Regions from separate parts of the Homo sapiens genome. Here all the other regions are linked to region 1. Evidence: fine-mapped expression QTL. A gene starts in region 1. Each other region holds a variant in brackets. All regions are shown on one strand. Distances are from middle to middle.

Region 1 (4,149 bases):
TCCATAAAACGGGCGGGATGCCTACAAGTATGATACTGTATTTAAAATTCCCTTTCGTCACCGCTTAGGCATATGCTCCAGGCATCATGGCAGCAAACTCAATGCTACCTACGTGTGTAGGTATTTATTTTACCCAAACGTAACTTTTGACATTTTGATTTACATGGAGGAGGCAAGTAACACAACACGACTCTGACATCTTCCCAGCTGTCCATTGATTTAACTCTTGAAGGTTCAGGGCTACTATTTCACATGTAATTTATTCCCCCATCACTGAAATTCTCAATGACCAATGTAATCCGAAAAAGTCTGCTTAGCTTTTCTGAAACTAGAAACCCAAGACAAGTCAACACCAGCTGAAAATCAAACAAAAACAGTCTGTTTTTCATGCTTTCCCATCCTTGTCCCTGAATGGAGATCTTAAAACTGAAACCAAAGCCAGGTGAGGTGGCTCACGCCTGTAATCCCAGCACTTTGGGAGGCCGAGGTGGGCGGATCACCTGAGGTCGGGAGTTCAAGACCATCCTGACCCACATACAGAAACCCCATCTCTACTAAAAATACAAAATTAGTCAGGCTTGGTGGCGCATGCCTATAATCCCAGCTACTTGGGAAGGCTGAGGCAGGAGAATCGCTTGAACCTGGGAGGCGGAGGATGCGGTGAGCGGAGATCACGCCATTGGACTCCAGCCTGGGCAACAAGAGCAAAACTCTGTCTCAAAAAAAAAAAAAAACTGAAACCGAGCTATTGCTGAGTATCTCGGGTAGCCGGTTTAGACTGTGTTTTCTCCAAAATAGGGCCTGTGGATCCAAGTAAGCTCGAGATTCTTCCTGAAGAAGCAGAGAACAGAAGTGTGAGCAAAAACAAGGGGCTGACATGCACATAAGAACCCTTTATAAATTATCTTAGAAGGGGCCAGGCGCGGTGGCTCACGCCTGTAATCCCAACACTTTGGTAGGCCAAAGTGGGCAGATCACCTGAGGTCAGGAGTTCCAGGCCAGCCTGGTCAACATGGTGAAACCCTGTCTCTACTAAAAATACAAAAATTAGCCGGATGTGGTGGCGCATGCCTGTTATCCCAGCTACTCAGGCGGCTGAGGCAGGAAAACTGCTTGAACCCGGGAGGCGGAGGTTGCAGTGAGCCAAGATAGCGCCACTGCACTCCAGCCTGGGCTACAGTGCGAGACTCCGTCTCAAAAAAAAAAAATTATCTTAGAGGACGGTGGTCACCCCTGTAGTCCCAACACCTTGGAAGGCTGAGGCAGGTGGATCGCTTGAGGCCAAGAATTCAACACCTGCTGGGCAATATAGTGACACCCCATCTCTACAAAAAATATATATATATATATCTTATAGATGGGCTGAGAAAAATCCCCAGAGAACTGACATGTTTTTCTCTACTTTCTTCAATGCCAAGCTGAAAGTTTCACTGCTCGGGCAGTGCAGCTCTGGTTTCACGGGGGCTAAATTCCAAAGTGCGGGGCGGGGGTAGAATCTAAGAACCACACCCAAGAGAAAGACCAGTGTTTGGGCAGCAAGGCATCAACCTGGAGGGTACGGACGCCGGAGCACGCGGCTACTCAGGCCGAACCCCGACCCGGACCCGGCACGCGGCCTCGGCGAGGGCGGGCGGGAGTGTCCTCCTCCGGGACAGCCGGACTCCCGCCGACTTCTGGGCGGCGGGGAGGGCTCCAGGCCCGGCTCTCCCGGGCCCCCGCACGCGATGCGCGGCCCCTGCAGCTGCTCCGTGCCCCGAGACGCGCCCGAGGCCTCGGACCTCCAAGCGGCCACCGCGCCGCCAGTCCCGCTGCCCAGGGACACCCCGGCCCCAGCTCCCCGCGCGCCCACCCCCTCGGTCCCACGCGCGTCAGCCACCCGCGCCCCCCGCCGCTTCCGGGTCCCGCCCGCCCGGCCTACCGCGGCCTAGCCCGCCCCGGAGCCCGGCCCTACTCACCCGCGCGCGGTGGTGGCGGGACCCCGGGCCCGGCTCCCGGAGCGGCGCGGCGCGGTCCGGGCCCATGCGCTCAGCGGCAGCGCGGCGGGCGGGACCCGGCGGGGGCGCGGCCCGGGGCGGCCCCCATCTCGGCGGCTGCGGCTCGGCGGCCCGGAGGCGGACGCGGGGCAGGCCGCGGGGGCGCCGCAGGGGCCCAGCCGCCAGCTCCCACCCGCCCGCTCCGCGTGGACGCGGCTCCGGGCCGACTCCGGCCGGCTCTGGCGGCGGCAGCGGCCACGATCGCCTCCCGAGCCAGAGCCCGAGCCAGAGCGCCGAAGCCCAGGCCCGAGCGCCCCCGCCGGCGGCGTCCGGAAGTGCGGGGGCGGGGCCGGGGCGCGGGGACGAGGTGAGAGCGCGGGGCGGGGCCTCAACACGGGGCGGGGCCGGCAGCGCGGGGACGAGGTAAAGGGTGTGGGGCGGGGCTTCAGGCGCGGGGCGGGGCTGAAAGCGCGAGGATAAAGTGAGGAGCGTGGGGCGGGGCCGACAGCGAGGGGACAGGTGAGGAGCGCGGGGCGGGGCCGGGGCGTGGGCGGGGCCGGAAGCGAGAAGACGAGGTGAAGAGCTCGGGGCGGGGCCTCGGGCGTGGGGCGGGGACCAGGGAGTAAGGCGGGGCCCGCCTCGAGCAGAAGAGGTAAAGAGCGTGGGGCGGGGCCTCCGGCGCGGGGCGGGGCCGGAAGCGAGAAGACGAGTTGAGAAACATGGGCCGGGGTCTCTGCATGGCCGGGAGAGGGCGTGGTCAGTGCCTGCCGGGGGCGGGGCGTGCCGGGGGCGCGGTCGCGCCGTCTTCCCGAGGGGCGGTGCGGAAGCGGAGCCCGGGAGGCTTTGGCTTCCCAGAGAGCGGAGTGGGAGAGGCGGCGTTGCAGGTCCTTGGAATGGCCGCGGCCGTGGGGAGCACTGGGCGGACTGCGCGCCCCGAAGGGCGCACGTGGGGCGCAGCCCTTTTCTGCCGCCAGTACATCGGAGGGCAGTCAGGGGGCTGCAGGCCTCGGGGCTCCCTGCCCAGCCGGCCCTGGAGAGGAGGCCCTCGTGGGGACCGCCACGGCCTGCCCGCCGCCGTGAGGGAAGCAGGCTCCCAGGAGTGGGGTGGTCGGCAGGCAGGGATGGCCAGGGCCCTTGGAAGGTGGGGTGGGCTCCACCCTCCTGAGTCCCAAGGCAGCCTGGACTCACAGCGCCAGGGAACACGTTAGGCCCCAATATATGGTGGCTCTCACCCGGACAGGAGCCACAACCTCCAAAGAGCCCACCGGCTAGGACCCTCTGCCTTGATTTCTCCCAGGCACCATCTAGTATCAGAGAAGGGTTCTCCTTCCCTCCGCTGCCCAGGCCAGCCCGAGAGCAAGGCCATTGGAGTGTCCAGACCCCTGCACCCCTTCCCCTGGGCTGTCTCCACAGCGGCCCTGCCAAGGGGTCCAGTCCGATCCTGCCACCCTGGCTGCCCAGATCCGTGTCACTTGCCCTGCAGGCCACAGAGCATGAGGTCACAGCCCCAGGCACCCCACGGCAGAGAGGCACGGGCCCCCAGCAGCAGCCCCAGCACCAGCTCTGGCCAGCCCAACCCTGTCAGAACCAACCCTCTGCTCTCCACCCAGGCCTCAGCCAACCATCAGGCCCTCCCCAAGGAGGAGGATGTGAGTACCAGGATCTGCCGCCTCCCACAACAGCCCAGGGCCCTGTCCTTCCCAGAGCACTATTGGGCCTGGCACCTCCCGGGATGCTCCAGGCAGCCCCCTGGGGTCAGCTATACCCCCGTTTCACAGAGGAGACAGCTGCAGTTCAGGCCACACAGGACCAGCTCGCCTCCTGTTGGGTGAGGGCTCCCCACCTCGTCCGCCCCACACCTGAGACAACAGCCCTCATCTATCTGCCCTCTGCTTTAGGCCTCCCAGGGCTCCCTGCTGCCCACAGCCCTTCAGGGCCCTTCCTAAGGGCGCCTCCCCCACACCTTCCCCTAGATGCGTCTGGCCACTTGCCCGCCTCCGTGCTTCCGTGTCCATCATGTCCATACCTGCCAGCTCCCTCCAGGCACCTCTCACGTCACCCCCATGTCTTTCCCTGGGCTGTGTCACCCTGGATGCCCAGCCTCACCCTTCAGAGCTCCCAGGCAAGCACAGAAGTCCCAGCTCCAGGCTCCCCGAGCTTCCAGCCTACCCCCAAC
Region 2 (4,149 bases), 58 kb before region 1:
CAGGCCCCAGGTGACCCAAGGTGGACAGGAGGAGCTGGTGACCTCTGAAGGCAACCATGGCCTCTGTGACCACAGCCCCAGGGCCTGGGTGAGCTATAGGCTCCCAGGACCCTCAAAGAGACACTGATCTGTGGGGAATTCCAATGACCCAGGATGGCCGAGAAAACTGGCCTTATGAGCAAGCTGAAAATGGAGAAGCCAGGTTCTGGCCTGGAGCGAAAATGCTGCCCACACAAAGGGGAGACCTCCCTGCAGCCCAGACAGAAGCCTCCCTGCCCTAGGGAGAGAACAGGGTCTGGCTACGGAGCCCAGAAGACCAAGGAGGGCGCAGTGAGGAGGGCTGTGGGCTGGACGTCCCGGATGAGAGAAGGGCACAGTGAGGAGGGCTGTGGGCTGGACATCCAGGATGACAAGAGGACACAGCGAGGAGGGCTGTGGGCTGGACGTCCAGGACGACACTTCTACATCTGCACGGCTTTCAGAACCACGTAGCTTTCCGACCGTGCAGAGCCACTCAGGGCTCCTGGGACGCAACTGTCAAGAGGCAGCCGCCATGCCTCCAGGACCTCTGCCCTAAAGCCCAGGCTGCCCAGCAGCGAGCAGCCTCTGGCTGGGGACCGGCGTTCCCCACACACTGGGGCCCTGCAGCCTCCCTGCAGACTGGGCTCAGGTTGAGGAGGGACCCCGCCTCCAGAGCAATGAGCGCGGCGGCCTCGGGTGTGTGAAAGCTCCAGCCCCAGCCTCCGTCCACCGCAGGGTGGCCTGCCACGTGGCCCCTCAGTGGTTCTCAGTGGATGGAAGGGCCCAGTATGGCTGGGGGACACCCAGAGGGCCGTTTTTCCCCTGAAGACCTCAGGCCTCGGGGAGCTTCAGCCCCAGGAGTGGTGCTGTGGTAACCCCCAAGACCCACCCCACCCCACGACGCGGCCGTACCTCTGCTTGGAGGGTGCTCGGCTGGCTCTCTTTTCTTCCTCCTCCAGACGTCGGCGCGCCTCCTCCAGCTGGGTTAGGGGGTTGGGAGCTGGGTGGGGTGGCATGGTGGGGTCTTGGATGAAGAGGTGGGAGGGCTGCACGGAGGTCCGGAGCTGAGGGCCGGCCCAGGGGTGCTCAAGGGACAAGGGTCTGGAGTTCTCATGGGGCTGTGGCTTCCTCGTCCCCGAAGACCTTGGGGAACAAGAGAACAAGTTGTGACTGTGGCCGACACCCTGGCCAGGTGGCCTGGTGGGGCTACACTCATCTCACAAGGGCAGCCTCCTTGAGGGATAGGATGGGATGGGGCACTGGGGCCTGGCCACCAAGCCACATGGACGTCCTCCACAGACCACACAATAAAAACATCCCGGCCAGGCATGGTGGCTCACACCTGTAATCCCAGCATTTCGGGAGGCCGAGGCGGGCAGATCACCAGAGGTCGGGAGTTCGAGATCAACCTAACATGGTGAAACCTCATCGCTACTAAATATACAAAATTAGCTGGGCGCCTGTCATCCCTGCTACTCTGGAGGCTGGGGCCCGAGAATGGCTGGAACTGGGGAAGTGGAGGTTACAGTGAGCCGGGATCACGCCACCGCACTCCAGCCTGGGTGACAGAGTGAGGCTCAGTCTCAGGAATAAAAAAGACAACAAAAAACCAACCCTCATTTGCCTGTAATCCCAATACTCTGGGAGGCCAAGGTGGGTGGATCGCCTGAGGTCAGGAGTTCAAGAACAGCCTGGCCAACATGGCAAAACCATGACTCTACTCAAAAAATACAAAAAATTACCCAAGTGTGGTGGTGGATACCAGTAATTCTAGTTACTCGGGAGGCTGAGGCAGGAGAATCGCTTGAACCTGGGAGGCAGAGGTTGCGGTGAGCTGAGATTGCACCACTGCACTCCAGCCTAGGCAAGAGTGAGACTCCATCT[C/CA]AAAAAAAAAAAAAAAAAAAAAAAATGGCCAGGCGCGGTAATCCCAGCACGCTGGGAGGCCGAGGCGGGTGGATCATCTGAGGTCAGGAGTTCAAGACCAGCCTGGCCAACATGGTGAAACCCTGTTTCTACAAAAATACAAAAAGTTAACTGGGCATAATAGTGGGTGCCTGTAATCCCAGCTACTCAGGTGGGTTAGACAGGAGAACCACTTGAACCTGGGAGGTGGAGGTTGCAGTGCGTTGACACTGGCCTGTTGCACTCCAGCCTGAGCCACAGGAGCGAAACCCCATCTCAAAAAAAAAAAAAAAAAAAAAAAAAGGCCAGGCGCGGTGGCTCACGCCTGTAATCCCAGCACTTTGGGAGGCTGAGGAGGGCGGATCACGAGGTCAAGAGATCGAGACCGTCCTGGCTAACACGGTGAAACCCCACCTCTACTAAAAAAATACAAAAAATTAGCCGGGCGTGGTGGCGGGCGCCTGCAGTCCCAGCTGCTCTTGAGGCTGAGGCAGGAGAATGGCATGAACCCGGGAGGCGAGGCTTGCAGTGAGCTGAGATCAGGCCACTGCACTCCAGCCTGGGCAACAGAGCAAGACTCCGTCTCAAAAAAAAAAAAAAAAAATTCTTTCATGGAGACTTTTTTTTTTTCTTTTTTTGAGACAGAGTTTTGCTCTTGTTGCCCAGGCTGCAGTGCAATGGCTCGACCTCGGATCTCGGCTCACTGCAATCTCCGCCTCCCAGGTTCAAGCGACTCTCCTGCCTCAGCCACCGAGTAGCTGGGATTACTGGCACTCGCCACCACACACGGCTAATTTTTTGTATTTTTTTTAGTAGAGATGGAGTTTTTGTCATGTTGGCCAGTCTGGTCTCGAACTCCGGACCTCAAGCGATCCACCTGCCTCGGCCTCCCAAAGTGCTGGGATGAGGCTTCTTTTTTTACATTTTATTTTTAACAGCTTTACTGGGATACAAATTATATACTAATCCTAGAGGCCGGCGGATAGCTTTGAGTCCAGGAGGCTGAGACTGCAGTGAACGGTGTGATTACACCACTGCACTTCAGCCAGGGTGACAGAGGGAGACTCTGTCGCAAAAAATTAAAAAAAAAGTCTTAATGAATAAAAAGTATAAGTATGTCTCAAAGTGGAATGTATTAATACTTATCCTAAAATATGGGACATGCAATATTTAGTATATACAGCTATTTAAAAAAAGGATTCGGCCGGGCACGGTGGCTCACGCCTGTAATCCTAGCACTCCAGGAGGCCGAGGCAGGCGGATCACCAAAGGTTGGGAGTTCGAGATCAGCCTAACATGGCAACCACCCCCTGCCCCGGTCTCTACTAAAAATACAAAAATCAGCCGGGCGTGGTGGCTCACGCCTGTAATCCCAGCTACTCGGGAGGCTGAGGCAGGAGAATTGCTTGAACCCAGGAGGTGGAGGTTGCAGTTAGCCAAGATTGCACCACTGCACTCCAGCCCGGGCGACAGAGCTAGACTCCGTCTCAAAAAAAAAGACTCGAAGGCCAGGAATGGTGGCTCATGCCTGTAGTCCCAGCATTTTGGGAGGCCAAGGTGGGAGGATCACTTGAGCCCAAAAGCTTGAGACCCAGCTGGGCAACACACTGAGACCCCCTCTACAAAAAATGAGCCAGGCAAGGTGCTGTGCACCCCTGTTCCCTCGGGAGCCCCAGAAAAACGATGAGCCCGTCCCCACCTCAGTCAGCACCGATGGGGACCCCAAGGCCTTGCGGGACAGGCTTCCAACACAGGCAGGAGGGCCACGCCCCAGGCGCTCAGCTGCCTCACAAGTTCTCATCAAGTAATGTGGAGGGAGATGCGTCCTGGCCAGGGCCTGGGTGAGGGTGGGGGGCAGATCAGGACCTAAGTCTGAGGAAGCTGGGGCCATCCACCCACCAGGGCCAACACTTCCCAGCTGACCTGCCTCTGACCACGACAGGAAGGTGGGGGGTACCACCTCTGTGGGGCCCCTGGCCCTCCTGCTGGGTTCCGGGCACGAGTGCAGGCCCAGGGGGCGAGCAGGAGCAACACCAAGACCGGCCCGGCGGGCAGCGGCAGGGGCTGGACCTGTGGCGCCGGGGCCTTGCTCCACACCACACACGAGGCCTCTGCCCTTCTGGGAGGAGAGAAGTGCTCACGCTACACAAGAGCCTTCCCCAGCCCTCAGCAGGACGGCCAGGTGTGAGCACAGAAGGCTCCTCCGTGGGCACCTCGGGAGTGATG
Region 3 (4,149 bases), 480 kb after region 1:
TCAGACCTGGCTTCGCGTCTGTTTTCTGAAGCACCTCTGCTCCGCTCCCCGAGTCTGTCTCATGGGTTTCGCCGCCTGATTCTTGGGCGGCCCCTTGCAGGCTGTGGTCTTCCGTGCAGGTTGGTCTCCCAGTGGTTGCAGAGCTGGTTCTGGTGGAACCCCTGCCCTTGGGCTGCACTCGGGAGGTGCCAGTCACTGTGCCCAGGGATTTCACGGACCTGCTTGTCACTACGCTCCCCGGAGTCACCCCAGGGATTCTGGGAGGGTCCCTGTTGCACAAACAAGGAAACCGAGACACAGGACGGAAAACGGGCCACGGAAAACGGGCCGGCCTCTGCTGCCTGGGTTGTGATGAAGGCCTCGGGAAACGGGCCGGCCTCTGCTGCCGGGTTGTGCTGGAGGTCTCAGGGTAGCTGTGGAAGCTGCACGTGTCACCTTATGTCATGGCTGCAACGGCACGCAATGCACGCACAACATGTGTGCAGACACAACACACACACAATACACGCGCATACACAGACACTCGCTGCCAGGCACAGGAACACACCCCTCCCCTCATGCCACACACGTGACGACTGGAGCCCGGACGTGCGTCCTGGGGGGACCCTGCTGTTTCTCTCTTTGCCCCACTGTGTCCTGGGAGAATGTGCTCCAGGAACCTTGCAGCAGACAGGACCTGGAAGGGTGTCTGTCCCAGGCCCGGGGAACAGCCCAGCTCAGGCCTGGGGCGCGGGCAGCCAGGCAGGGGTCTGGCCCAGTCCTAGCCAGGGGAAATGAACTCTCGGCCTCCAGGGTATGGCTGGGGCCTCCGTGCCTGGACCCAGGTCAGACGAGTCACTCACGCATCCCGAAATCCTGCCAGAGGCTGGAAGCCAGGTGCATTAAATGTGCTGAGATTTACGCGCCCAGGGCACTGGGGACCTGAACCAACAGTTTGTTCAAAAGCAGACACCTGCCTACAACAGGGTTGTTGTAAAGCTGGATTCAAACACTGAGACTTGTGCGATGAAATGGACCCAGGGTTTGTGTTTCAGGCCTGAGGTTGGAGGCAGGAGGCAGGGAGGGACGCTGGGCCGAGGCCTCGTCTCCTGGAGGCTCTGACCCCACTGGTGCAGGGTGGCGTGTGGGCAGGGGCACCTCGGGAGGGGAGGTTTGACGTGGAGCACGGGAGCCGCTTTGGGTGGGAAGACCGAGGCCTGAGGGGCACTCAGGACTCTCTCTATCCTCGGGCTCTGTGAGCTAGAGTGGGGAATGGGGGGAGTGGACCGGGAGCCTCTGGGCGGCCGACAATGGGAAGGCCCCTGACCTGGGAGTCTGGGGGCCATCACTGTGGCAGCCCCATGCCCTCTGGGAAGGTCCTCTGCTCTCTGGGTGGGGTCCGTGGGACTGTGTTATGAGCAGGCCCCTGATGGCGGGTGGGGTCCTGTCCCTCCGTTCCTACCCAGCCACGGGTGGCAGTTCTGTCTTCCTCCTGCATCAGCCGACAGCCCCTTCCCAGGAGCTCTGAGTCCGCCTGCTGCTCCGGGGCCGCTGGGGTGAGGACGGGGTGAAGAGGCGCGGCCCTGTCTATACCAGCACCGCCACTGCCCACTGGGGCCCACATCCCGCCCACTGGGACCGACATCCCGCCCACTGGGGCCCACATCCCGCCCACTGGGGCCCACATCCCGCCCACTGGGGCCCACATCCCACCCACGGCGGCCAGGGACAGA[C/T]GTCCTTCCTGTGTCTTGTGTCCCTTCACCACTACCAGCCCGGCACGTCCTTTGCCCATTCTCACTCCGACACTGACCTGAGATGGGGCTGCCCCACACCCGGGCACACACCCGGGCACGCACCTGGGAAGGCCTGGATCCTGTTGGCTGGGAAGAAGTGGGCAGGTGGGCTGTGGAGTGGGCAGTGCTGTTTGCATTGCTGCTGATCAGAGGTGCCTCCTGCTGCTGTGTGAGGAGGCCGGGCCTCCCCGGAGTCTCTACGAGGTGCTCTCAGAGAGATTCGAGGGGCCCCGGGCCTCTGGCTTCTGTGTGGGGTGATGTGGGAGGTTGGGGAATGGAAAAGCCTTCTCCCTCCCCCCATCATTAGGAAAGAAAAACAGTTTCCATGGGGCCAAGTTTATTTTATTTTATTTATTATTTTGAGGCAGAGTCTCCCTCTGTCGCCCAGGCTGGAGTGCGGTGGTCCGATCTCAGCTCACTGCAACCTCCACCTCCTGGGTTCACGCAATTCTCCTGCCTCAGCCTCCCGAGTGGCTGGGATTACAGGTGCCCGCCACCACGCCCGGCTAACTTTTTTTGTATTTTTAGTAGAGATGGGGTTTTGCCATGTTGGCCAGGTTGGTCTCGAACTCCTGACCTCAGGTGATCCATCTCCTTCGGCCTCCCACAGCACTGGGATGACAGGTGTGAGCCACCACCCCCGGCCGGTGTTAACTGATTTTAAAGTGCACGCTTGGGCGGCGTTCAGCACATTGCAGTGTCAGGCGGCCCTCACCTCTCTCTAGTCCTGAATGTCCTCATCACCCCAAAAGGAAACCCTGTCTCCATCAGCACTGGCTCACCACCCTTTCCCAAGCCTGAGAGCCTCCACGACTCTCTGGCTTGGCCTGTTCTGGATGTTTCGTAGAAATGGGATCAGACACTGTGTCCCTCTGAGCCTCCGTCGCTCGAGGTCCTGCCTCAGGTTTCATCCCGGTGTGGTGTGTGCTGGGGCCTCCTTCCTTCTTGTGGCTGAGTGGCGCTCTGTGTGTGGCCAGCCTGTGTGTGGTTTGTGGCTCATCTGTGAGTGGATGCCAGGCTGCTGGGCTGCTGGCCTGCATGTGGTTCGTGGCTCGTCTGTGAGTGGACGCTGGGCTGCTGGGCTGCTGGGCTGCTGGGCTGCTGGGCGCAGTGCGTGAGATGCTGTGGTTGTCCATGCACCGGCTCTTGTTGGACAGAGGTTTTTGTGGTGCCTGGACGTGTACCCAGGAGTGGTGTTGTGGGAGGTGTTGTGGGTGGTGCTGTGGGCGTTGTGGCCTCGGGCGGGATGGCGTTTGGTTCACTGCGTTTCCCGGCCGGCGTCTCCTTCTGTCATGAAATGCTCAGTGCCCACGCACGGTCCATACTGGGGTTTGGTACCGTCCACCTACGGATTAAAAACGTTCACGGATATCTGCTTTCAAAACACCCAGGCCGGTCTTGTCGGCAGAGCCGGTCTCAGGCCACCTCCTCTTTTCCGAGGTAGGTGAGACTCTGGGAAGGGAAGGAGCGAAGGAGGCAGGCTTGGAGCCTTGACCACAGGGAGGAGGGGAACCTGCTCCTGGATGCGCCGGAGCCCAGCCCGGCTTGTGGAACGAGGCTGCAGGAGCCTGAGATCGGGGACTGCCGGGCCTGCGCCACGGAGGGTCCCCAGGGGGACGGGACAGCCTTCCTGCCTCTTCCAGCCCCTGGCGCTCAGCTTTGCCTTAGCTGTGGCCTCATAACTCCAGCCTCTGCCTTGGTCGTCATGGCCGTGTCTTCTGACTTTGGATTTAGGGTCCGTCTTGATCCGGTATGACCGCATCTCAATGACGTCGGCAAGGACCCTGTTTCCAGGCAAGGCAGCTTTTTGATATTTGAGTGGTCGGAGGCACTGTTTAGCCACCTTGCTGCCTCCTCGTAGGACTGAAGGGCATTTTTCCCTTGAGCAGGAGACTCCACACACGCGGACACTGACGTTGAGCCGCAGGGCTGGTCACTGTCCCCGTCCCGTGGCACCGCACGCCAGGGCCCGGCACCTTCTGCCGTGGGTCACGTGGCCTTGGGTCCGGCCCCTGCCAGAGGCTGGGGCCCCAGGGACCCCTCTGGGCTAGAAGGTGCTGCTGACACAGGCGTTTTTAGATAAGCAGGAAGCTCCTGAGAGGAAGCTTTATTTTTACTTTGTTCCGGCCTCTGTGGTTTTTGGAGATGGCCTTTAAAGATTTGTTTTCGATTTTATCTTTAAAGAAGATGCAGGAAAGCCCATGGGTCAGGCTCCAGAAGAAATATCCGGGAGGAAGGCCCTGAGCCTGGGACGGCGGGGCCAGGAGGAGGCCCCTGAGCCTGGGAGTGTAGGGCAGGGGCTGCAGGGATCCCAGGAGGAGGCGCTCCCGGCCCCGCATGGCCCTGTGTCTGCAGTCCCTGCCTGGGCCTGTGGGCC

Direction of the effects. Positions count from the first base shown, and alleles are read on the strand shown. Sizes are in standard deviations (SD) of each study's normalised expression. Not every link is listed here.
In carriers of allele CA in region 2, the expression in NK cells of the gene that starts at base 2,310 in region 1 tends to be lower than with C alone (moderate effect, 0.47 SD a copy in Gilchrist 2021).

The links. PIP is the estimated chance that this variant, and not a neighbour inherited with it, causes the effect.
Region 2: its variant is the best candidate, but not a certain one, in a credible set for the expression of AXIN1 in NK cells (Gilchrist 2021, PIP 0.63).
Region 3: its variant is the best candidate, but not a certain one, in a credible set for the expression of AXIN1 in hypothalamus (GTEx, PIP 0.63).

What each region holds. Positions count from the first base shown.
Region 1 is chr16:350,414-354,562 of GRCh38, forward strand. It overlaps AXIN1 (axin 1), which reads right to left and starts at 2,310. Exons shown (of 11, transcript NM_003502.4): 1 at 1,956-2,310. RefSeq lists silencers at 1,529-1,588, 1,599-1,668, 1,689-1,738, 2,019-2,098, 2,199-2,678 and 1 more.
Region 2 is chr16:292,555-296,703 of GRCh38, forward strand. AXIN1 (axin 1) reads right to left here. Exons shown (of 11, transcript NM_003502.4): 8 at 934-1,164. Among named protein-coding and RNA genes, the nearest start is that of PDIA2, 11 kb to the left of the region's middle. The variant C/CA (reference allele first, on the strand shown) is at 1,906.
Region 3 is chr16:827,321-831,469 of GRCh38, forward strand. No RefSeq gene overlaps it. Among named protein-coding and RNA genes, the nearest start is that of GNG13, 29 kb to the left of the region's middle. The variant C/T (reference allele first, on the strand shown) is at 1,713.